5 linked regions of the Homo sapiens genome follow. The protein of the gene in region 4 purifies or fractionates together with the protein of the main gene of each other region. This does not show direct contact. Each region holds a gene or a part of one and is shown on either strand. Other genes may lie near its edges. The genes, in order: ATL3, SLC9A8, TMEM164, GALNT8 and ITPRIP.

The links.
Region 1: the proteins of GALNT8 (region 4) and ATL3 purify together in Homo sapiens (affinity purification with mass spectrometry; one large-scale study listed by BioGRID and IntAct). This does not show direct contact.
Region 2: the proteins of GALNT8 (region 4) and SLC9A8 purify together in Homo sapiens (affinity purification with mass spectrometry; one large-scale study listed by BioGRID and IntAct). This does not show direct contact.
Region 3: the proteins of GALNT8 (region 4) and TMEM164 purify together in Homo sapiens (affinity purification with mass spectrometry; one large-scale study listed by BioGRID and IntAct). This does not show direct contact.
Region 5: the proteins of GALNT8 (region 4) and ITPRIP purify together in Homo sapiens (affinity purification with mass spectrometry; one large-scale study listed by BioGRID and IntAct). This does not show direct contact.

What each region holds. Positions count from the first base shown.
Region 1 is NC_000011.10:63,657,004-63,661,761, forward strand, and holds part of ATL3 (atlastin-3), read right to left. Parts: intron 2,250-4,758; coding exon 2,035-2,249; intron 1,960-2,034; exon of another isoform or gene 1,902-1,959; coding exon 1,758-1,901; intron 1-1,757. UniProt on the Homo sapiens protein: Atlastin-3 (ATL3) is a membrane-anchored GTPase that mediates the GTP-dependent fusion of endoplasmic reticulum (ER) membranes, maintaining the continuous ER network. It facilitates the formation of three-way junctions where ER tubules intersect.
Region 2 is NC_000020.11:49,885,405-49,890,119, reverse strand, and holds part of SLC9A8 (sodium/hydrogen exchanger 8), read right to left. Parts: intron 4,557-4,715; coding exon of another isoform or gene 4,497-4,556; exon of another isoform or gene 3,555-4,496; intron 3,527-3,554; coding exon of another isoform or gene 3,470-3,526; exon of another isoform or gene 3,375-3,469; intron 3,369-3,374; coding exon 3,222-3,368; intron 2,292-3,221; coding exon 2,184-2,291; 3' UTR 1-2,183. UniProt on the Homo sapiens protein: Na(+)/H(+) antiporter. Mediates the electoneutral exchange of intracellular H(+) ions for extracellular Na(+) in 1:1 stoichiometry. Acts as an Na(+)/H(+) exchanger in the trans-Golgi.
Region 3 is NC_000023.11:110,008,921-110,013,678, reverse strand, and holds part of TMEM164 (transmembrane protein 164), read right to left. Parts: intron 1-4,758.
Region 4 is NC_000012.12:4,718,463-4,723,994, reverse strand, and holds the start of GALNT8 (probable polypeptide N-acetylgalactosaminyltransferase 8), read right to left. Parts: upstream 3,596-5,532; 5' UTR 3,318-3,595; coding exon 3,107-3,317; intron 1-3,106. UniProt on the Homo sapiens protein: Probably catalyzes the initial reaction in O-linked oligosaccharide biosynthesis, the transfer of an N-acetyl-D-galactosamine residue to a serine or threonine residue on the protein receptor.
Region 5 is NC_000010.11:104,308,497-104,312,387, forward strand, and holds the end of ITPRIP (inositol 1,4,5-trisphosphate receptor-interacting protein precursor), read right to left. Parts: 3' UTR 1,204-3,891; downstream 1-1,203. UniProt on the Homo sapiens protein: Enhances Ca(2+)-mediated inhibition of inositol 1,4,5-triphosphate receptor (ITPR) Ca(2+) release.

The sequences.
Region 1 (4,758 bases), on a different chromosome or scaffold from region 4:
GTTCCAGACCAGCCTGGCCAACATTGTGAAACCCTGTCTCTACTAAAAATACAAAAATTATCCAGGCATGGTGGTGTGCACCTGTACTCCCAGCTAATGAGGAGGCTGAGGCAGGAGAATTGCTTGAACCTGGGAGGCGGAGACTGTAGTGACCAAGATGGTGCCACTGCACTCCAGCCTGGGCAACAGAGTGAGACTACATCTCAAAAAAAAAAAAAAAAAAAGGACAAACAGGTGTGAAGGCATGCTTATAGGATTGGGCTAAAAACAGAAGTAATGGATGAAAGTCTGTATAAGAAACACATGACTTACCCCTCCCGATCCTTACAAAGAAATCTGTGGAGAGGCTCTATGCCCATAGCTTACAAGGCATAGATGAGACTGGGGCTAAGAAGCCCTACTGATAGCTAGGGGATAGTGAATGCCCACCTTCTGAACAGTGAGATCCCCAATGCCATTTCCCTGCTCAACTCCCAGAACAACAGCCAGGTCTGTGCCACCCATACAGGAGTAAGGAAGTAAAGAACAGAAGTGGTAACACATAAGAGCATCAGCCTCTGGGAAGTGAAAACTGGGTAGAGAGGAGAATAACACACATGACAGCTGCTTTCTGTTAGAAGCCTTACAGTAGTACCTGACCTTTTAAACTATATTCATGCATTTTATTTAAGAATCTTAAAAACAATCAATATGTATTAATTTTAAATCATTCACTTTGATAAAAAGTTGTTTTCACATCTTCCTTCCTTTTATTGAAAAAAAATTTCAGAAAATAACAGTTCATAAAAGACACAAACAAATCAACAGGTATATACCAGTGGAAAACACAATATGAAACTAAAAATGCCATTGGCTTTTTTTTTTTTTTTTTGAGACGGAGTCTCGTACTGTCGCCCGAGCTGGAGGACAGTGGTGTGATCTCGGCTCACTGCAACCTCTGCCTCCCGGGTTCAAGCGTTTCTCCTGCCTCAGCCTCCCAAGTAGCTGGGATTACAGGCACCCACCACCACACCCAGCTAATTTTTTGTATTTTTAGTAGAGACAGGGTTTCACTATGTTGGCCAGGCTGGTCTCAAACTCCTGACCTTGTGATCTGCCCACCCTGGCCTCCCAAAGTGTTGGTATTACAGACGTGAGCCACAGCACCCGGCTGCCACTGGCTTCTTTAATTGGTTAAGAGCACAAAATGTAACAGGCAGAAGGTCTGTTTCAAACAAATTAAAAAGCTATGTGTTTTTTAAATTCTCCCCAAGTTGGATATACACACACCCACAAAAATAGTGTGTGAAGGAAAGCTGTCATACACAGTAAGTTGTATCCTGAATTATTCAAGGAAACACATGTTGAAATAGGAATTAACAGAGTCAGCAACAGATTAATATTTTTTAACTGAGTCTAAAAATGCTACATAGCCCTAAGGAATACTACATAAAGTACTGCTAGGTACAAACAAAAAAGTCTGTATAGCTTTTAGCAAAAATGTTTTTCCAGAAAAGAAAATTAAAATAATGCAATCAGCAGACCAAGGAGACTACAGCTAGACATCAGAGCTACAACTTCGCATACCTGTGTCAGAAAATCCTATTTATCCACAACAGACTAAAATTTCAGGACAAAACAGGGACTTTTTAACTTTTCTTACTTTACCCATTTTAAATTCTTTGATAAAAGGTTTTTAATTGGGTTAACACAGTACATGCTGAAGTTCATATTTTGTTGTTGTTGTTGTTAATCTGTAAGGTCATTTTCATCCTTACCTTCTTCCCACCTGGCTTCTCCACAGTGAAAACTTCACTCCAGATTTGAATCCCAGTGGTTTCTGGATCAGATCCCCCTCTCCAGGAAAATCCTGTTAACGGTTCTTCTGGGTCACCCAACCAATTTGAATGGCCACTTTCCTTCTACAGAAGTAAGAAATTTCTATTAAATCTTAAATTAAAAATTTTATGCATCAAGGATAATCTATGAGCTTATTTCGCTTTTTTGGACATTAAAGTCTCACTTTTTACTTGAAATAAAATAATTCTATCTTACCTGAGAATATAAGTATCGTAGCATAAAATCCAGAATGAAGGACTTGCCCTTTCGGAAGGCACCAGCCACTGAAACCACCACCACATCAAGATCTCGGATGTGGTCCTGCAAGAGGATGCTGGCCAAGGCTTTCTCATCTAGCTCAAAGGAATGTTGATCTTTCTGAACCAAAACAACCTGCACTGGACCAGGCTTGCTGCTCTCCATGGCATCATCTATGTTCATGCAGAGAAAAAAAATCAGTGTCAAATATTTAAAATATGTTTTTGAATATAGGGAAAACAAAAACTTCTTAAACAGGGGACAGGGCCAGGCTCAATGGCTCATGCCTATAATCACAGCACTTTGGGAAACCAAAGCAGAAAGATTACTTGAGGCCAGGAGTTTCAGACTAGCCTGGGAAACGGTGAAACCCAGCGCTATGAAATTTAAAAAATTAGCCATATGTAGTGGTGTATACCTGTAGTCCTAGCTACTTGGGAGGCTGAGGCAGGAAGACTGCTTGAGCCCAGGGGTTTGAGGTTACAGTGAGCTATGACCACACCACTGTACTCCAACCTGGGTGACAAAACTAAACAAAACAAAAAACGGACACAAAAATACTAACCATAAAAGGGCAGGGCACAGTGGTTCGCCCCTGTAATCCCAGCACTTTGGGAAGCCGAGGTGGGTGGATCACTTGAGGTCAGGAGTTCAAGACCAGCCTGGCCAACATGACGAAACCCCATCTCTACCAACAAATACAAAAATTAGCTGGGTGTGGTGGCACGCACCTGTAAGTCCTAGCTACTCGGGAGGCTGAGGCACGAGAATAACTTGAAACTGGGAGGCAGAGGTTGCAGTGAGCCGAGATCATGCCATTGCACTCCCACCTGGGTGACAGATAAGACCCTGTCTCAAGTTAATGGGTGCAGCACACCAGCATGGAACATGTATACATATGTAACTAACCTGCACATTGTGCACATGTACCCTAAAACTTAAAGTATAATAATAATAAAAAATAAATAAAATAAAATGTTGTTAAAAAAAAAAAGACCCTGTCTCAAAGAAAAAAAGTACTATCCATAAAAGAAAATAAAATGACAACACAGACTTCATTAAAATTAAAAACTTTGTTCACTTAAAGACTTCAATAAGTAAAAATGCAAGCCATGGGCTAGGGAAGAGTATTCACAATATCTGTTTCCAAAGGACCCACATCCAGCATCAACATAGCAATCCATAAGAAAAAAATAACAGGCACTTTGTAAGAAAAAGATATACAAATCCTATTAAAAGGTACTTCCATATCATTACTTAACAGGGAAATCTAAATTAAAACCACAATAAGATACCACTACCTGCCCATCAGAATGGCTAAAATTTAAAGACTGACAATATCAACTGTGGGACAGGGTATGAAGCAACCGCAATTCTCACACATTCTGATAGGAGCACAAAATACTAAAGCCACTTCAAAAAACTGTTTGGCTGTATCTACAAAAATTAAATATATCTGTGATCCAGCAATTCTACTCCTAGGTATACACCTAAGAGAAATGAATGCCTATGTCCACCAAAAAACATATATACAAGAATGTTGAGCTGGGCATGGTGGCTCGCACATATAGTCCCAGCTACTTGGAGAGCTGAGGCAGGAGGATTACTTGGGCCCAGGAGTTCAAGACCAACCTGGACAATATTGCAAGACTCTATCTCAAAAACAGAAAGTTCATTATCAGCTTTACTCAAAACAGTCCAAAAGTGGAAATAAAACAATGTCTATCAATAATAGTGTTTGCCACTGCTAAGCTTTATTTAGATATATATATACACATATATATATATTATTTAATCCTCAGAACAACTCTTTGATGTAAATAATACTGCTCCATTTTAAGAAGAAGGAAATGGCCAGGCTCAGTGGCTCACATTTACAATCTCAGCACTTTGGGAGGCCAAGGCAAGCTGATCACTTGAGGTCAGGAGTTCAAAACCAGCCTGGCCAACATGGTAAAGCCCCGTCTCTATAAAAATACAGAAAAAAAAAAAAATTAGCCATGCGTGGTGTCGCACGCCTGTGGTCCCAGCTACTGAAGAGGCTGAGGGAGAAGAATTGCTTGAACCGGGAGGCAGAAGCTGCAGTGAGCCGTGATCGCGCCACTGCACTCCAGCCTGGGTGGCAGAGTGAGACTTGGTCTCAAAAAAAAAAAAAAAGAAGGAAATGAAGGCTTATGAAGGTTCAGCATATTGCCCAACAGGTCCTAGATATAAGCTCAAAAAGATCTTTAGGTGGTTGTATTTTGCATATCACTAGTAATAACTCAAAAAGTTTTAGAAGCTATTAATTCTATAGTTCAAAATTAAGCACTAACTATATTATACTTTCCTTACCAGAGTTTCCCTACCAAAGCACAAAGATAACTAATTAATTTGAAATTCAGGCCAGGCACAGCATCCACGCCTGTAATCCTAGCACTTAGAGAAGCTGAGATGGCAGGATTGCTTGAGGCCAGGAGTTCAAGACCAACTTGGCCAATATAGCGAGAGACTGTCTTAAAGAGAAGAGAAGAGAAGAGAAGGCAAGGGGCCGGGCGTGCTGGCTCACCTGCGCAATCCCAGCACTTTGGGAGGCCGAGGCGGGCAGATCACCTGAGGTTGTGAGTTCCAGACCAGCCTGACCAACATGGAGAAACCCCATCTCTACTAAAAATACAAAATTAGCCCGGTGTGGTGGCACGT
Region 2 (4,715 bases), on a different chromosome or scaffold from region 4:
GTACCTCCTGGGAACGGTCCCGCCACCCCCTTTGCCCCCAACAAATCCTGGGGCCCCTCCACCAAGCCCCACATGCTCTTCCGCCACAGCATCGTTTTCAAGTCTCAGCTCAAAGTGTGAGGCCAGGTGTGACCTGGCTGGGGCTATCACACCTGGTGACGAGGGGGCAGACGGAAATGGGATCTGACTCTTTTCATTGCTTTATCTGTGAATTTAAGATTAGGAAAGAAAGAAATCCTGGCAAACTGAGTTTGCAAAACAACTTACATCTGGGAGATGGGACCCTAAACTTCAGGGGAGAGTGAGTTCTGGCAGGGGTGCGAGAACAATCTGGTCTCAGATCCCTGCCCGCACTCGCCCAGGGGCAGGCAAAGGTCCCTACCCTCTGACTTCCTCTCTTCTCCACTAAAAGGAAATGGTGGAAACCAAAATTAAGCAAGGCAATGGCTCAAATTATGGGGTTGAGAAATTAAAAAAGATCATATTTTAGCTCTATCAAGTACACATTTACTTTTCATGCAAAAAGTAAACAGTGTGCTTCCTGCTTGGCTGGCCTGCTCTGACTTCAGGGTCAAGGCGAGGTGGTAGGATCGGGCCTGGCCTCTCATTCCTGGCACAGAGGAACCTGGAAGGTCCTGAGGTCAGTCCCTCCTGACATCTGGAGCCACACTGCCTGAGGTGGAAGAGATGGAGATGTGCTTGCTCTAGCCCAGGGTCCATGCTGGCCCATGTGGGCCCACTGTGTCCCCAGAGAAGCAGGAATGCACATGATCAGCCCAGGGTCCATGCTGGCCCATGCAGGCCACTGTGTCCCTTGAGAAGCAGGAATGCTTCTTAATGATGAATTAAACCACCCCAGGGTGCCAGGTTCCAAGGCTCCCTGGGACCCAGAACCACATACGGAAGTTGGCAATGGCTCTTTGATGAGCTGAGCAGTTTGAGGCTCGTCAAAGGGGAGATGAGGAGAGGATGGGAGTCATTCCATCTGGACATGACTGGCAGCTCCTCACCCTGAGATGGCTGAGGGGGCCAGGCCCCTGGGACAGGGCTGGGGTGTGTGTGCGTGGAGCGTGTGCTCCAGGATGCTGGGGCCCCAGGTCAGAGTAGAGGAGGGAGCACTGGGTGCTGCTGCTCTGGCCCCTGCCCCAGTGCTTTGGGGACCCTAGCATGGGTGACGAATGGGATCCAACGTGGTAGGGAACTGGGAGAGGGGAAAGAGGATGGAACCCTGACTAGCAGCGAAGATGGCAGCAGTGAGCAGACACTGCAGGGCCTCAGCACAGTGGCCTCCGATTAGACAAAAGAACAACTGAGTACGGGAATGGTGGGGAGGGAGATCAGATGGCAGGAGGCGACTAGAGGCTCTCAGCACTTTGCTGTAAAATGCAAATCAAGACAGCAGTTGTGGGCCGGCAGAAACCCTGTGCCTCTAGCTTTTCCCTCTAGAGGGCGCTCTGACCCCGCAAGATAAAAGCCTAGAGTTGCAGCTTGCAGGGGGCTCTAAAGAAGATACCAGAAGGTACCAGTGTAAACATTCAGAACATGCCCAGAGAAGGGCAGCAGCCGTCTGCTACCCAGGGAGATAGACTGCGAAGTGCCAATCAGGTAAAGGACAAAAGGTCACTCCGTTTCTCTCTGAGGGAGCACAGGAAGTATCACAAAAGGCAGCGGGAGGTTTTCAGGATTTCTGGGCCCTGCCACTTAGGTCAGAATTGTGGCTGCAGAGGCATCTTGATGACTCAAAGGCAGGTGGCTGACCCCTGGCTCTGCCAGTCCGGCGGGGGCAGCATGAAGGCAGTGGCTGGGGAATGGCACAACTGTAGATGGTGCTCCTCTAGGCAGGGGGCCGCAGGGGTCCTCCGGGTGGGGGGGTAGGCGCCCTAGCTTCACAGATGACTGGCACCTGGCCCCATGCTCCCTCCCCTCTGTGGGCTGAGGAGCCACACTGAGCGGAGGCTGGCTCAGGGAGGAGTCGGGAGATGACAGTTTCCCAAGAAGTCGCCTGGCTCCAGAGGCCTGTCAGGTTCTGGACTAAGGCGACTCTGCAGCCAGTACCTCGCCCCGCCCTCTTATGTCTTGAAGGGGCTGCTGGATGCACGCATCTCTGCGAGGCCCCTGCTGAGTGTCTGTGCGCAGCAAACGCCCATCCTGGGCCTGCCTGCCTGAAGCCTTGGCACCTGGCGTCAGAGCAGCTCCTGCTCGTCGTCCTCGGAGCCGGAGGGGCCCTGGCGTACCTCCTCGTACCACTTGTTGGTGAGAGTTTTCATCTGGATGCGCCCGTGGTGCAGGTCCTGGGTCGAGAGACACAACCAAGCCGTCAGGGCGTCAGGGGCAGGGCCATGGAAGGGAGGGGATGCTACTGGGTGTTTTGTGTGGGGTGTCTAGGGAGGAGGTGGGAGGCAGGGTGATGGCCACAGGCAACTTCAGTTTCAGTTGAACAAACTGAGCTGGGATTGTTCTTTGTGGGGGTGGAGGTCACGGGAGGTGTCATTCAGAAAGGAGGAGGGAGCATGGCTTGAGGCTGAACATGTGGTCTCTGGAGTCAGACACAGTTAGCTCTGCTCCCAGTTATGCCCATATTGGCTGTGACCTTGCGGGGTTACTGCACCCCCTTAGGCCTCCATCTCCTCAGCTGTCAGGGACACAGCTGCATCCACTGCACAGGATGCTGGAGAAGGAAGCGGTCGTGGTCACAGTCACTGGAGCTGCCTGGCTCCTGGAAGAGCGCACACACCGGCAGCTCTCAGGCCTGCCGGAGAGTGGAAAATGGGCCTGCTCGGAAACAAAGCGGGCAGCAGCAGGAAGAGCCCCACCCCTACCCAAGGCCTCCAACTAAAGAGAGGCCAGCAGTGCCCCGAGGGACAGAACCAGAGCCCTGAGCTGGGGGCAGACTTGGGCCACAGCTTGAGGCCCTGGTATGTCTGAAATTCCTCAGCTCCGATTCAGTAGCTGATCAATACCCCGAGTCTATCATCCAGGAAAACCAAACTGTGTTAACAAATCTATTATTAACCTCGCACTAAATGTGGCAGCGAAGGAAAAACAGCAGATGCCGAGTTCCACAAGCACGTCCAGCCTCCAGATCGGGAGGCGGCGGCCTGGCGGGCCCACGTGAGCTTTCCTGCCTCCCCACTCTTCCTCCACCCCACCCTGGGCCACCGCAGGTCCTGAAGGAGGCAGGCAAGGGACCCCCAGAAAGTGTGGCCTGGCCGGTATCCCACCTCCTGCGTCAGCCTCCGAGTGAAGAAGGGGTTCAGGTACTTGGCGTCCAGCCACACGAAGCCCTTAAGGTCCTGCCGCCTGATGTAGTGGGCCTCGTACTCCTCCTCCGTGAGCTCCGACAGGTGCTCCGACTCCACAGTGTTGCCCTGAGCAGGGAGGAAAGGCGGCCCGACGGCCACCAGCTGGCACCATCGGGGGGCACCTCCTGGAAGCCCCCACACCACCCAGGCCGCCAGTGTCCCCAACCCTAACTCCACTTGACCATCAATGCAGGGTGACGGGCAGCAGACGGCCTCCTGGGAGCCTGCAGGGAGGCAGGAACGTCCATCAGGGCACAATGGATGCCCAGGACCCCACCTAGGACAGCTAAAACAGAAGGACTGGGCCAGGCTGGGGCTTGGTCTTTAAGCTTTTCAAGCTTTTGGGTGATTCTATCATGCAACCAGGACCAGAACTGCTGTTCTGGGCTTTTCATTAGCAGCAAATCGCACAGGGAGGCTTTTTGTCTCTTTGCCTGTGGCTCTATTAGCTAGGACTCCACCGTGGACAGGCTTTTGCCAATCAAGTCAAGAGAGGAGAGGGGAGAGGAACACATCCTGTAGGAATTGGGGAGGGACGAAGAAAAGGACCCCATGTGGAGGGGAGAGACGGAGGTAAAGAGGCGGGACTCGGGTCATAGGTAGGAGCAAAGCAGACAGGCTCTGAGTGCAGCGCCTGCTCTGCTGGAGGAGTCTCAGTGGGGCCACAGTGAAGTGTGCTCTGCAGCTTCACTGCAGGTGGTGGGGAGGGGGACGGGGCAGGTGCAGGGAGGGCAGAGGATGGCCGGGGAGGGGAGGGCATTTAGATGCTGTGAAGCAGTGGTTGTCAAACACTGGTCTGTATTAGAATCTACCTGGGGGGCCTGTGAAACCACAAAATACTGAGCCCACCGCAGCCACCTGCAGAGGTGCTAATTCAGTAGGTCTGAATGGGCTTGGGAATCTGCAGATCTAACAGGTTTCCAGTGATGCTGCTAGTCTGGGGAGCCCATTTTGAGGACTGCTGATCAGCGTGGTAGTAAAGAGGACAGGCTCGGGAGTCTGTGCCCACAGCTGTCTGATTCTCTTGGTGCCTCGGCATTCTCATCTGCAAAGTGGGTATAATGAAAGCGCCAGTTTCTGGCAGGCTATGGGGACAATCTGAGATCATCCAAGGAAAACGCAAGCACACTGACTGCCACAGAAAACATTCCAGAAACTCAGCGGTTCATCCTCAGAGGAGCTGTCCTGTTTCTGCTAGTGCTGTGCTTCGCCAAGCGTGTTCACAGGATCAGCTGCAGCAGCACCACCTGGCAACTTGTTAGAAACGCAAATTCTTAGCCTGGACCACATGGTGAGACCCCATCTCTACTAAAAATAAGAAAAAATTAACTGGGTGGGGTCACGCCTGTCTGGAGTCCCAACTACTCCAGAGGCTGAGGTGGGAGGATCGCTTGAGCCCAAGAGGTCTGGGCT
Region 3 (4,758 bases), on a different chromosome or scaffold from region 4:
GGTCCAAAGGCTCTATCCACCAAGCTGAACTTGCATTAGGAAAATGAAGCATTCCTACTGCCCTACTTAAGTCAGGATCCCCGCTGTATCCCAGTCCAAGCCTACAATGTCCCAGCAAGAATTTGGCAAGTAAATGCCAATGAGGAAACTTATCTGGCCCTGATGTGTACACACCAGCCACTCAGATCTGATTAATGTTAAGAAAAGAAGATCAAAACTCTTTATAGAAGTCTCTCTTTACCCCATTTTCCTTCAACCTGATTTCTGAAGAGAACACCTGACTACCAGCCTTTTTGTGCTCTGCCCAGAACATCTAATAAGTGTTTACCCAGGACTCCCAGAGCCATAGTTAAGGGCCTTAATGTGCAATCTGGCTCTGCACCTTATTTAATCAGCACCTGAATGAAATGTCTCTTTGCTAGCAACAGCCAGAACACAGTCAGTCAGAGTCTTTCTGCAAACACAGCTGGTCGATTGGCAAAGACAATTCAATTCACAGGCAAAATACACCCTGACTTTATACCAATACTGGCATGTGATGGACATGAGGAGACTGAAGGCACTGGGCTAGAATTAGGATGGTACCATGCTTCCTTTCCCCTCCAGATGATCTCACTCCTCCCTCTCCTACCCACCTAAACACATGGCCACAGGGCAGAGCTTGCACTGTTTTCGCCAAACAGGCCAATCCTGTCTGACCTCCTGGCTCCTGCAATCCATTCCCTTCCCTCAACACCACCCAGCTCAGAATAAAACTCATATTATCCTTCCTCCCTCTGCCATTTCCTCCAGCAGCTACTAGACGGGAACCAAAACCAATCAAGAGATCCCCCAAACCCTTCCCTTCAGGATCTCATGCTGGTAACAGGTCCAAGTGCCTTGATGCCCATGAACTGACAGATGTGCAAGCGCTGCCCTGTGTAGCCAGGAAAGAGCTGAGTAAACACAGAGGACTGACTGGTGCCCAGAAGAGGGGTCCTCGCCAGGCCTTCAGATTAACTGCTGCATCCAAGCACTGTGGAGGGAGATTTACATTAATATGAAACCCTGGGGGTCAGCATGTAGGGTGGCAAGGCATGGATAACTCCAGTTCTCCTGATCAGGGGCTTTAGCGGGAGAGAAGAGGCCAAAACCTGAGCAAGGCACATGAGAAAGGACATCTGCTTAAAAACACTAGACACAGTCTACCAATTAGATATAATGTTAGGGTAACAAGGCCCTTTTTTAAAACTCATCCTCTCCCTGACGCCCAGTGGAGTCTGTCCACTCACATTTCAGTATGAACCTCTGAAATAAAACTGCTTTCTTCCTAATCCCCCATGGCTATCATCTCCTCTGATGAGATGGGCATTTTGAATTATAGAAAGGATTGTTTTGGAACTTGTGTGGGGTGGATCAGGTGGACAGACTTGGAAACAGGGAAGAAGAGATATGAAAAAGAAAGGTAGAAAGATGGCACCACACTTCATTAGTGCTGCTGTGGACTTTAGAGCAGCAACCATCCACAAGCCACTAAAAAGCATCTACTGGTTGCAGGTGGGATGCCTGCTATCTCCTTATTTCTCACATTTAATGTCTGTTCACTTACCCCAATGTTGTGTGCCTCTGTTGTTGACAGTGTGGGCCCTCCTTGGGACAGCACAGAGAACACAATTTTCTATCTCATCCCCTATCGAGGATTCAAGGGCATCTGCAGGTCGTTTATCAACAGCCTAGAAATGACAGAGCATTCCTAGAGTTTCACTTAGTTGGCCAAGGGAGAAGTAAGACATCTACCCCTGATAATAATAAGCAAATAATTCCAGGTTACAGTTGAGACACTTTTCTGTGAAGGAGGAAGCAACTCTGCGAACTTATGGTAGGATCTCTCAAAGTGAGGTCAAAGGCTCACAGGCATTAGAATCATCTGGGAGTTTCTTATAAATGCAGATTCCCATCCTCATCCTAGACCTGCTCAGAATTGCTATGAAGAGAGCTAGACATCTACATTATAACAAGCTTCCAAGGGATTCTTTCACAAATAAAGTTTGATAATCACTGCTCTCCACATCCATCCTCTTCCTGTCTACTTGAACCCTGGGTAAGTGAATAGATATTAAATAGGAGAAATGGGGAGATAGCACATAGCCTTTGCACTTATTGTTTCTTATGCCTAGAATTGCTTTCCTTCCTCCATCACCCAATGAATTCCTACGCATTCAAATACATTTATTGAGCACCTACTAGAGCCAGTCCCTGTTCTAGGCACTAAGAGAACAAAAACCAAGGGTCCTTGCTTTCATGGAGCTAACATGAGCCAGCTCAAATGCCACCTCTTCTAGGAAGCTTTCCTTAATTGCATTAGGAAAAAAAAAGACCCCTGTCCCCTATGCTTTGTTCAAATCTGTTACTATACATGTAATGTTGTAATTTAGTTGATCTATTTCCTTGTCCATCTCATCAAAACTGTGAACAAAATGAAGGCAAAGGCTACTTCTTCTTTTTTTTTTGTTTTTGGTTTTGTTTTTGAAAGTACATCAACAATGACTGCTTCTTATTTCTCTTTGAATCTCCAATACCTGGCACCAATGTTTGGCACACAATAGGCATTCGATAAATATCTGTTGAGTGAACGCAAGAAAGAATAAACTCCCACGAACATCTAAAACAACAGTCCTGCAAACAGAGAGTTAGCATACAACAAACCATGTGTCAACATTCCCTCTTGTTAGTCCCTGCAGATCTTAGAGACTGGAAAGCGGGGGGATATAGAAGGACTGGAGGGATATATTCCATATATCACTGGAAGGTAATAAAGGTGGCCTGGTTGAAATACTCCATTGACATAACTAACAGTCACCAAACAAGCCAGTGGAACTCTACAGCTACCTTAAAACCCTCTTCACAATAACTTGGGGCCCTCATCCTCTAATCTGAATCACACTATTTAACAGGTATTGAGATGGTGCCAGAACACTTAATGCCTTGCCCACAGATCACCCAGACTCATGCTCAATTAGGATGGGCACTGAAACCAACTTCCCACCTAATTACTTCAGCCACTAGATAATGTCTCTAAAAGTGGGGTCCAAGGCTGACCAGCATTAGAATCACCCAAGAGCGAGTATAAATGCAGATTCCAATCCTCACCCTAGACCTGCTCAGAATCACCATGTAGAGAACAAGGTATCCGCATTATAACAAGCTTCCAAGAGACTCTTTTACAAATAAAGTTTGACAATCACCGCTTTCCACATCCAGAGTCTCTTCGCATTCACTCAGCCAGTTCCTGGCAGGAGAGGAGCACGTGAGACAAGACATTCTCAATTTAACAAAATATATGAAAGACCAGGAGAAGCAGAGAAACCTAGCTCTTCATTTCAATGAGGCATAACAATGAGGTATCCACTGAAAAAGAGAAGAGGGGAGAAAAAGGAAAAGTAAGTCTCTGGCTTAATAACATTTTTTATTTATATGATATTAAGAAGCAAGAAAGTTGGCATGTCCAAGAGATTAAGATCAAGATCCAACAGTGTGATTTCCTGATTGGGAGAAAAGCAAACAGACACTTTGGGCCAAGAGTAGAGATTCTAATAACCATTCTTTGTGATGGAAATTCTACAAAAAGATGTGTGAGCAGGAGCTGAGATTGCCTCACTCCTGTGGCTATTTCAAAAAACAGGCAGAAAGATTTTTTTTTTTTTTTTGAGACAGAGTCTTGCTCTGTCACCCAGGCTGGAGTGCAGTGGCGGGATCTCGGCTCACTGCAACCTCTGCCTCCTCGGTTCAAGCGATTCTCCTGCCTCAGCCTCCCGAGTAGCTGGGACTACAGGCGCGTGCCACCACACCTGGCTAATTTTTTGTATTTTTAGTAGAGAGAGGGTTTCACCGTGTTAGCCAAGATGGTCTCAATCTCCTGACCTCGTGATCTGCCTGCCTCAGCCTCCCAAAGTCTGGGATTACAGGCGTGTGCCACCATGCCTGGCTGGAAGATTCTCTTAATAGGAACATAGGGCCACCAGTGGAGAAAGAAAAAAGGAAAGCAAAAAGTCAGTTCCATCAATCATTCAGTCACCATTATCCAGGTACACATTAAACAATTAATGTGCATATACAGTATTATATTCAGCTCTGCAAGGAGTTACAAAGGAAAAATCCACTACTCCTTTACTTTAAAAAAGTGTTCCCACTAATGGTGGAGAAACATTAAAGAAACATGCAAAAACAAAAAACAAAAAACAAACAAACAAAAAAAAATGATCTGGCCAAACACCAGATTACCTACATGCATACAAAGGTATTCATTAAAGAGCCCAACATTCTGACATGTATTCAGACGGCTGGGAAAGGACAAAAAGTGTTACTGGAGTCAGGTCAGGCTCCTATGGAAAGGTTTCGTAGAGGAGAATCTTCAGGGGAGTATTTACAGAGGGGGAGGAAACTAAAAACAAGTCTCACAAAGACTGAGAAGAAGGTGGCCCATCTGTGGCAAAGGAATAAAAATTCTGTGAGCTTGTGGATCATCCACTGAGTAGGGGCCAGCAACATACTGTTATTTAAAAGCAAGCTGAGTTGTATTAACAGGTGCAAGGCATGAAAAGACTGGGAAAAAAATACTTCCTCTCTGCTTGGTGTAGGCTGGACCTCTGGTAAGAGTTAGTGTCCAGTTTTATATGCCATGCATCAGAAAGGTATCCAGACACAGGCAAGGATCCAGAGAAAAGTAACAAAAATGATTAGAGGAATGCCTTCTAGAAGCTATCAAGAAAGGTATAAGGA
Region 4 (5,532 bases):
TGTATTTTTCTAGAGACGGGGTTTCACCGTGTTAGCCAGGATGGTCTCGATCTCCTGACCTCGTGATCCACCCGCCTCGGCCTTCCAAAGTGCTAGGATTACAGGCGTGAGCCACCGCGCCCGGCCGACTTCTGATTTTTTTAAATCTTCCTGGAATCCTGGAGGCAATGAGCAAACAGGATGAAGGGTAATTAAACAGGCTTTTAGTTATAGGAAGCTCTGTGGAAAAAAAAAAAAAAAAAAAGCATTGGTGATCTAGAAACAGGGCCCAGAAGACTTTTTGAGGTTCAACTCAGGTGGTAGTGAGTCTCTGACATCACAACATTTCAGAGCGAATAAAATGTGGGAGCACCAAGAATAACAAGAAAGATCTTTGCAAAAAAGGAAAGAGGAGTAAACCAGATGGCTCTGGCTGGCTCCTCATGGCACATTGTGTCCTAGCTGATGGAAAGAATAGCAGGGCTTTGGGTAGAACTCCTGCCATTTTACGGCTTGAGGAGGCTGAGCCAGTGTGATGAGCCTTGGGGATGGGTGAGACAGTCCTGGTGTGGTCTGGGTGCTCTGCCAAATAGTGAGGGTGGTGCTGGGGTCACCACCCTAGGTACACAGGCATCCTCCTGGTGAAGCTGCACCAAGCATATTTGCATGGGCAATGTCCGACCCACCCAGGTAAGCCAGGGCTTGTGGAGCTGATGATCTTCCCTCTGTTTCATCCACTCTCTTGCCCCGTATCACTCTTCCCTTCATCCCTGTCTGCCTGTCTTTTTCTCTCTCTTTCCTAGACACACCCACTCATTTATTCATCTATGGAATTTCGATGTATGAATAGAAATGAGTAGTGAATGAGACGTTCATGGAAACAGCACTTATGAAACTTGCTTTCCATAAAACTGTACCATAATAAAATATGATGAGTCTTATGAAGGAGGACGTGGAAGGTGCTATGGGTGCCTTAGGACTCCTCCTCTCTCCTTTTATTCTCTCCTTCTCTCCCATCACACTTTCCCTTCTTTTCTTCTTGTCTCCATACAAACTCTTTCACTCTCTCTCCCTGGACTCCCTCACTTCTCTGCTCCTTTCCTGTCCCAGCTCTTTTCTCCTCTCTCATCTCCCTTCTCACTCTCCTCGCTCTTTCCCTGATTTCTTCTCTCCCTTCCTTTTTCTCTTCCTGCCTTTCCTTCCACCCATCTCCCAGCCTCACCCTGAACCCTGACAATGCTCAGTTCTCATTTTAAAAGACACTTTCCCCAACTCCAGCCCCATGTGCACACACCTGGGCAGTCACATCCCTGCCCACACATAAAACACCTCCCTATGGGGTTCCAGCATTTGATCCCTGTTACCTGGGAGCAGGGGGAAATTGCTGCTTCCCTTGCTGAAGTTGGATGCACAGGCACATAAAATTCAGAGGCATTAGACTTCCATGGTGAGCCGGAATCACAAACAAACCCCAGAATGTGTTGAAATCTTACCCTTAAGTTTAAATGAGGAGGTTAAAATTTGGCACAGAGCAGTTTATAGATCACCTTCTGCATCTACTTCACAACCCTATTAGGTCAGGTTGATAACTATCACTATTGTTATCATCATCTCCATTTACAGACCAGGAACCTGAGGCTGAGAGAGAGAAGCACTTGCTCAAAGTCACACAACCACAATGGCACATCAGGATTCGATCTTAGGTCCTCTAACAAAGCCCTCATTAGTTCATGAAAGGAGCACACCGCAAAATGGAAGCGAGGCCCTTGCCCCAGAGATTGCCACCTCTCTTCAACAGCCCCTACCACACATAGGCGTGGGGAAAGGAAAGAGAGATCAGATTGTTACTGTGTCTGTGTAGAAAGAACTAGACATAGGAGACTCCATTTTGTTCTGTACTAAGAAAAATTCTTCTGCCTTGAGATGCTGTTAATCTGTAACCGTACCCCCAACCCCGTGCTCCCTGAAACATGTGCTGTGTCGACTCAGGGTTAAATGGATTAAGGGCTATGCAAGATGTGCTTTGTTAAACAGATGCTTGAAGGCAGCATGCTCGTTAAGAGTCATCACCACTCCCTAATCTCAAGTACCCAGGGACACAAAACACTGCGGAAGGCCACAGGGACCTCTGCCTAGGAAAGCCAGGTATTGTCCAAGGTTTCTCCCCATGTGACCATCTGAAATATGGCCTCGTGGGAAGGGAAAGACCTGACTGTCCCCCAGCCCGACACCCGTAAAGGGTCTGTGCTGAGGAGGATTAGTAAAAGAGGAAGGAACGCCTTTCTGCAGTTGAGACAAGAGGAAGGCATCTGTCTCCTGCCCGTCCCTGGGCAATGGAATGTCTCGGTGTAAAACCCGATTGTATATTCCATCTACTGAGATAGGAGAAAACCGCCTTAGGGCTGGAGGTGGGACATGCGGGCAGCAATACTGCTGTTTAAGGCATTGAGATGTTTATGTGTATGCATATCTAAAGCACAGCACTTAATTCTTTACCTTGTCTATGATGCAGAGACCTTTGTTCACGTGTTTATCTGCTGACCTTCTCTCCACTATTATCCTATGACCCTGACACATCCCCCTCTCCGAGAAACACCCAAGAATGATCAATAAATACTAAGGGAACTCAGAGGCTGGCGGGATCCTCCGTATGCTGAACGCTGGTCCCCTGGGCCCCCTTATTTCTCTCTACATACTTTGTTTCTGTGTCTTTTTCTCTTCCAAAGTCTCTCGTTCCACCTAACGAGAAACACCCACAGGTGTGGAGGTGCAACCCACCCCTTCAATAGGCCTAAGGACAGGTCTATGGCCCTTGGGATTCTTATTCTTCTCGTTGCCTGCACATATGTAGATATAATGATAATGCATGTGCACAAGCCCACACACGCATACACACACACATGCTCACCTCCCCCATACTGCTTGCTCTAATTTCCACTTCTACTCACTTCATTCTCAATACCCATCTCCCATTTGAAGGCACAGAATTCAGTGTCAGATGCTTCAATGAGCGACTGAGATGAAAATGTGACCTCTCACCCATTTTTCCTTCCATATCCCTTTTTCCTAAGTGCCCCAAACACACACACCCACACACACACCTTCCAGGTTAGCATTGTAAACTTACTCAGATCCTGCAATTCCACCTCCAAGTGGGAGAGTCTCTTTATCACTGCCCCGTAGCGTTTATTCAGATGTAAAGGAAGCTCCCTGTGGAGACCACCCGTAAACAGGTTTTGTAAAGTCCCCTTGCTAGAAAATACCAGAAGGAGATTGACAGCAATGGCCAGAGTCAGCCCAATGAAGAGGGCTTTGGGGAGTTTCCTCCAAAACATCATCTTCTTCCTGGGGGTCGTCCACTCCCTGTGGGACTGAGTGTGTCACTGCTGGAGCAGGTTAAGAATCAGAACCAGCCTAGCTTTTGTGGGAAAGAGAGTTCTAGGTGCCAGTTGAGTTGGTCTCCCCTGTGTGAGACACCCATGGGAAGCCACGGGTGGCCTCTGAGGAGCAAAGTCTCCTTATTGCCTTCTTTGTCTTTATGCCCCGAGAGGATAACCGCTCAGCGGCTTTCCACAGGTTGCTCAGCGGCTTTCCACAGGTTGCTCAGGGAGATAACACTCCCTTGAAGCAGAGGAGTATAATCAAACATCTTGGCTCCTCCTGAAACCCACTCCCACCCATTTCAGTCATTAAAGATCTTAAGTAGTTTAGACACACGCCTTTGCTCAAGGAAATTCACAGAAACCGCCACTGTTACACATCTTATCGAATGACTCACTGATTAATCCTTTTCCTCATCCCTTCCTCCCCTTCCCATCTGCCCTAAGAACAAAGAGCTTGTAAACCAATAAATTGGGTGGAGCCCAGAGCTCTGGGCCGTGAGCAAGCCTCCAACGCTCTGGTCCCCTGGACCTGCCTTTTAAACGCTTGTTCTGTCTCTTTCTAACTCCTTTGTCTCCGCCGGACTCGGGGTATCCGCTGGGTGGTGTGGGGCTGGTTTCCCCAACAGCTTTCTCTCCACCCAGCTTCATAGATGACACCCTGCCTGCTAGGCCAGATGTTCTCCGGCCAAGAACACTATTATAGCTGCCTGGCTTCTCCCTGAGCAGCGTCAGGTGTGAGGAGTGCGCATGGCAGCTGCCCAGTGACAGGTAAGTCACCTGGACACACCTTGTACTGTCTCAGAAGTCAGAAGAATGCTTGCTCCTGCAGCTAGCTCAGGCTGCCTGGGTGAGAGGCTTTTCTCTATATATGTTTGTTTGATGTTTAATGTTCTCTCTCCCTGGAAAAACCACCTGGGAGACTCTGATAGGGCATGTGAGGTCTGGTCCTGTGGGTATAAGAAGGGGATAAATAGGATGAAGAAGAAATCACGAAGCAAGAAGTCTCTGTACACTTAGATCCTTGCTTTTTTGGAGAGCTGGGATCTAAGATGTCTTTTTACCTAACTCTACAGGGTTTTGGACATAGTAGGTGTGCAACAAATGCTTGTCCCACAAACTTAAGGACAGACTTTCTTGCTAGTTCCTAGGACTTCACTGCCTAGAAGCAGGTGGAGAAGAGCTGGAGGCGGTGCCCGGGGTTGAGCCTCAGGGGATGACTCCGATTCACTGGTCTCTGTCCTTTGCTTGTCCTCTGCACAACTTCATACACTGGGCTTCTGCCCTGCCCCAGCTTCCAGTAACTCCTTTGCCTCCACACCTCACACTTATAATATGTTTTGGACAAATCACCAGTGATCATCATTGTAGAATAAACACATAAAATTGTTCCCCAAGGCTAAAAGTTCAAAGTTCTCAGTCTACTGTCAATCCCGTCAAAATCACAGCTTCCACCCCGGCCTGGCTCTTTGGACTATTTACTACGTCCCAAACACAGCACATGGTGACATGTGCTGAGGCGGACATGTGGATTAAAGGAAAGTAATGTGGCTTTAGGAAAAACAGGATGAAAATGAACAAAATGAAAAGGAATCACTTCTTCTGTTTCGCAGGGATAGAAAATGTCTCCCAGCCTCCCACTTGCAAATTAGACTCAAAACATAAGAAACGCATGATCCAGCCAGGCGCAGTGGCTCACGCCTGTAATCCCAGCACTTTGGGAGGCCGAGGCAGGTGGATCACCTGAGGTCAGGAGTTCAAGACCAGCCTGGCCAACATGGTGAAACGCCATCTCTACTAAAAATAACAAAATTAGCTGGGCATGGTGGCAGGCACCTGTAATCCGAGCGACTTGGGAGGCAGAGGCAGGAAAATCGCTTGAACCCAGGAGGCGGAGGTTGCAGTGAGTCGAGATCGCGCCACTGCACTCCAGCCTGGGCAACAAGAACAAAACTCCATCTCAAACAACAACAACAACAACTACAAAAAACAAACAAACAAAAAAGCATAACCCTTCTGCTTCTGGGACAAGAAGAAATACCTACATTTATCTTCTCTATTCCTTCCCATCAAGGCAAGTAAAAAGTACACATGATATGTAAAACAAACCTAAGAAGACTCTGAAAGGTAGAGAGAACAGGGCAGGCTGACTAGAGATCTCCAGATATCCTAG
Region 5 (3,891 bases), on a different chromosome or scaffold from region 4:
TCTCTGAGGTTTATGTGGTTCCCTCTTTCTGAGAGATAATTTGTTGTTGACAGTTTTATTTTCTGGTTTCTTTGTGGGGCTGTGGAGAAACATCAAAGGGTGGAAAATGCCATTTTTACCTGTAAAGGAGGGCCCCACATTGTGCAGGAGGAAATAAACCAGACCCGGGCTCAGATGAATGGAGTGAGTACAAGCATTTGAGAGACAGAACAATTACGTGGATTTGATTTTCTTTGGGGAGGCTCTTCACAGTTTCCCATCTGTAAGGGAGCAAAAGAGGTTACAGCTGAAACTCAAAGCTGATCTGTTTTCACATTCCGCTCATGCGGGCTTCAGAGCCACACAATTTCACTTTCAATTACTTACCACACTTCATTGATCTCTGACTTACTTTGCAGCCATTGGTAGTCTTCCTATTAGACCCAGTTCCTTGGGGACAGAGCCCCCATCTTATACTTTTGTTCCCCACATAGAGCCGGACCTAGGCAGATCACATGCTCTTGCTCAGTACTTGGTCAAACACCTTTTCCTCACTGTTGATTCAAAATTTATTCAACGATGATTGACTAAATCCCAGGCAATGGTTATTTTTATAATAAGATGCTGGTGGTGAATCCACATACAGCAAGTACAGAATATGGAGATTACTGGGAGAGGAAGGATCATTTCAAAACAGGATTTGTGCACAGAGACGTTCACTAGAGTGTTGTTTATAACAGCAAAAAGTGGAGACAACTTAAGTGTTCCTCAGTAGGGAAAGTTGGGTAAATTATGGTACATGCATACAGACAGTGAGATAGTAAGCAGCCATATATATATATATATATATATATATTTTTTTTTTTTTTTTTTGAGACAGGGTCTTACTCACTCTGTCACCCAGGCTGGAGTGCAGTGGAGTGATCACGGCTCGCTGCAGCCTCTGCCTCCCAGGCACAAGCAATCCTCCCACCCCAGCCTCCGGAGTAGCTGGGATTAGAGGTACACGCCACCATGTCTGGCTAATTTATATATTTTTTGTAGAGACAAGGTTTGCCATGTTGCCCAGGCTGGTCTCAAACTCCTGGGCTCAAGCGATTTTCCTGCCTTGGCCTCCCAAAGTGCTGGGATTATAGGTGTGAGCTAATGTACTCGGCCAGTAAGCAGCTAGTTTAAAGAATAAGGTAGAGCCAAATGTTCAAAAAGATAACCAAGAAGAATTAGTCGGTATGATGCCATTTATGTAAAAAAGGACTAAAAGGATGCATATATATATACATACATGTGACACATACACAGAAAAATTTTGGAAGGATACACCAAAAACTTCATATTGGTTATCTCTGGGGAGTGGACTAAGAAGTCAGAAGTGGGACCGTTAGTCTGTTACTTAATTTTCCTGTTAGTACTTGAATTTTAAAATTATGACTGTATTATTGCTTTTATGTTTATTTTTTAAACAACAAACTAGTTAAACAAGCAAGCTATTTTTGGATGGCAATGAGAAAAGTTAACTCTAAAAGATGCCCTTCCCAGGGACAGGGGTGGGGCAAGGCAGAGTGGGGCGGAGAGGGAGGGCCCTGTTGAAGGCACACATTGCCCTTCACTCTGTGACTCTTGGCTCCCTCTGCTTTCGGTCGCTGGCCAAACCAAACAGCCTTCCAGCTCTGTCCCGTGAGGTGGAGATGAGACGGACCACGAAAATGTTCTGAATCACAGCCTTGGGGTGGCTTGAGTTAAGACTTCCTGGACATTCACCAACCACTGCCAGCTGCCACCAACCCTGCTCGGGAAGCCGGCCATGTACCCTACAGCACAGGACATGGATGGCACTGATCACATAGATAAGGACTCCTTAGTTTGGGGGTGAATCAAGTTACTGTCTCACTCAAAACCCGCCAATGGCCCACCTCTGCTTGTTGTGAGGTCCAAATTTACCTTGTATTAGCATTCAAGGCTTTGCATGGTTCAGCCCCACTCTTATCTTTTCAACCTCATTTGCTACGACTTCTCAGTATATGCCAACATGTACACCAGGACTGCCTGGGTTGGAATCTGGGCTGTGCTACTTACCACTGTGACAGTAGGTAAGTCAGTTGCCCCTTCAGTGCCTGTTTCCTTATCTGGAAAGCAGGGAGGATAAGAATAGCACCTACATCATAGGACTGACATGGAACTGTGTGCATTAACAAATGTGTGTGCGGAACGGTGCCTGCCATACAGTAGGTGCTTCCCACCCTCACTCCATGCTTCTGGCTGGAATGTCTTTCCTGGCCACAGTCCTGGTCATTTTTCAGAGTCTCTATCTGGCAGCGCCCCACCATGAGGCCTTCCCTAATCAGCCCAGGTACCAGTGGTTCTTGGACATCCAGAATCAGGTGGGGAACTTGGTGAAGTGCAGATTCTTCTACCTAACTTCTCAGGATCCCACTGGAGTCTGTGACACGGCCCAGGAAGCTGCCCCCAGGTGACACCCGTATGTGTAGTGCAGGGTCACACTTGGAATAGCTCAGTACTTGGAAGGCCACCTTCTGCTGCCTCTCCTAGGGAACAGGCTTGGTCCTATTCATTTTCCCATCTTCCACAATGTCTCATGCACGTTAGGCTCCTGACAAATGCTTGTGGACTATTCATGACCTGCTTGGGAGAAGGGCTCACCATCTTATGCCTTCCCACCCTCTCTCTGAGGCTTACGGCACTAGCGTGAATGTGGGTGCCCTCATGAGAAGCTTGTGGTGTAGCTGATGCCACTTAGACCACAGATTCCAAGCAGGCTCATTGGCTTTTCCCAGGTCTATCTATCTTCCAATAGATCTGTAGGGAAAGTAGTCCACTTGGGTTTTCTTTAACTTTCCATTAAGAAAGAAAGTGAGAGGGCTTCCTCAGCTAGGGGTACCATCAGTCACTTGGGGGAAATCTTTAAAAATCGAGCCTAGCCTGACCACTCCAGACTGGATTCTGAGCACCATGTAGGTTCAAGGCGGGGTCGGGGCAATGGACCAGGTTGTCTGGGTGATTCGGATGACACCCTTGATGATGAACCAGAGCTCCACCCCCAGGTTCTCAACGGGGGCTGTGCTTCAGCCAGGCATGCAGAGGGGCTAGAGCTTTTGAGGATATAAGGCCCTTCCCCAACATAACCAGCCTCTTGGCCTAGGGGCCAACTCTATTCATTTCACCCTTGTTATTTTGCAAAGCAAGTGAGCAGTTGCTGGGGAAAGTCAAGCATCCTTGGGAAAGAGACTCTGGGGAAAGAGGGCAGGGTTGTCCTTAGTGGAAAGGCCAAAGTCCCCTAGAGGACTCAAAATCCTCTATTTAAAATACAATCTCTTTCTTTAAAACCCAAAAGCTTCCTGTTAGTTCCAGCTCCTATATTTCTCGCTGACATTAGCTCTGTGAAATAAGGTCTTAGGCTGGAATCCACCCTACAGCCAGCTTTCAAAGGCCCTTTCTGGAGCCCTGCGGGCAGCACACAAGTTGCCTCAAAGACAGGGTAGAAATGTTCTGTTTTGTTATTTTTTAAAGTCTCCTGAAAGTGTAAGAATAAAAAGGGAGTGAAAGCTTCTGCTTTGTCAATAGGAAATCCACCCCCCTGTCCCCAACTCTGCCCTGGGAGCCTCACAGATTTCCTGAAGTTAAAAACAAACAGTGACCATTTCTACTCCTTGCAAGATTTAATTCTTCCTTTAATATAAATAAGGCAGCATGAAACACCAAGAGCCCCACTGCTTTCTGCTTTAGAAGCAGCTTTGGTGCAGAAAAGATTCCCGTTTCCCCACCGAGTTCTGTTGTCTCTGTACACACAAGAAGCCAGAAGATATTTTTTTTTCAGTGAACTTTCTCCTGGAAGCAAAGGAGAAGCTATGGGAGATCCAGGCATGGTTTTGGCTTCTGGAGGCTGTTTTTTGGTTA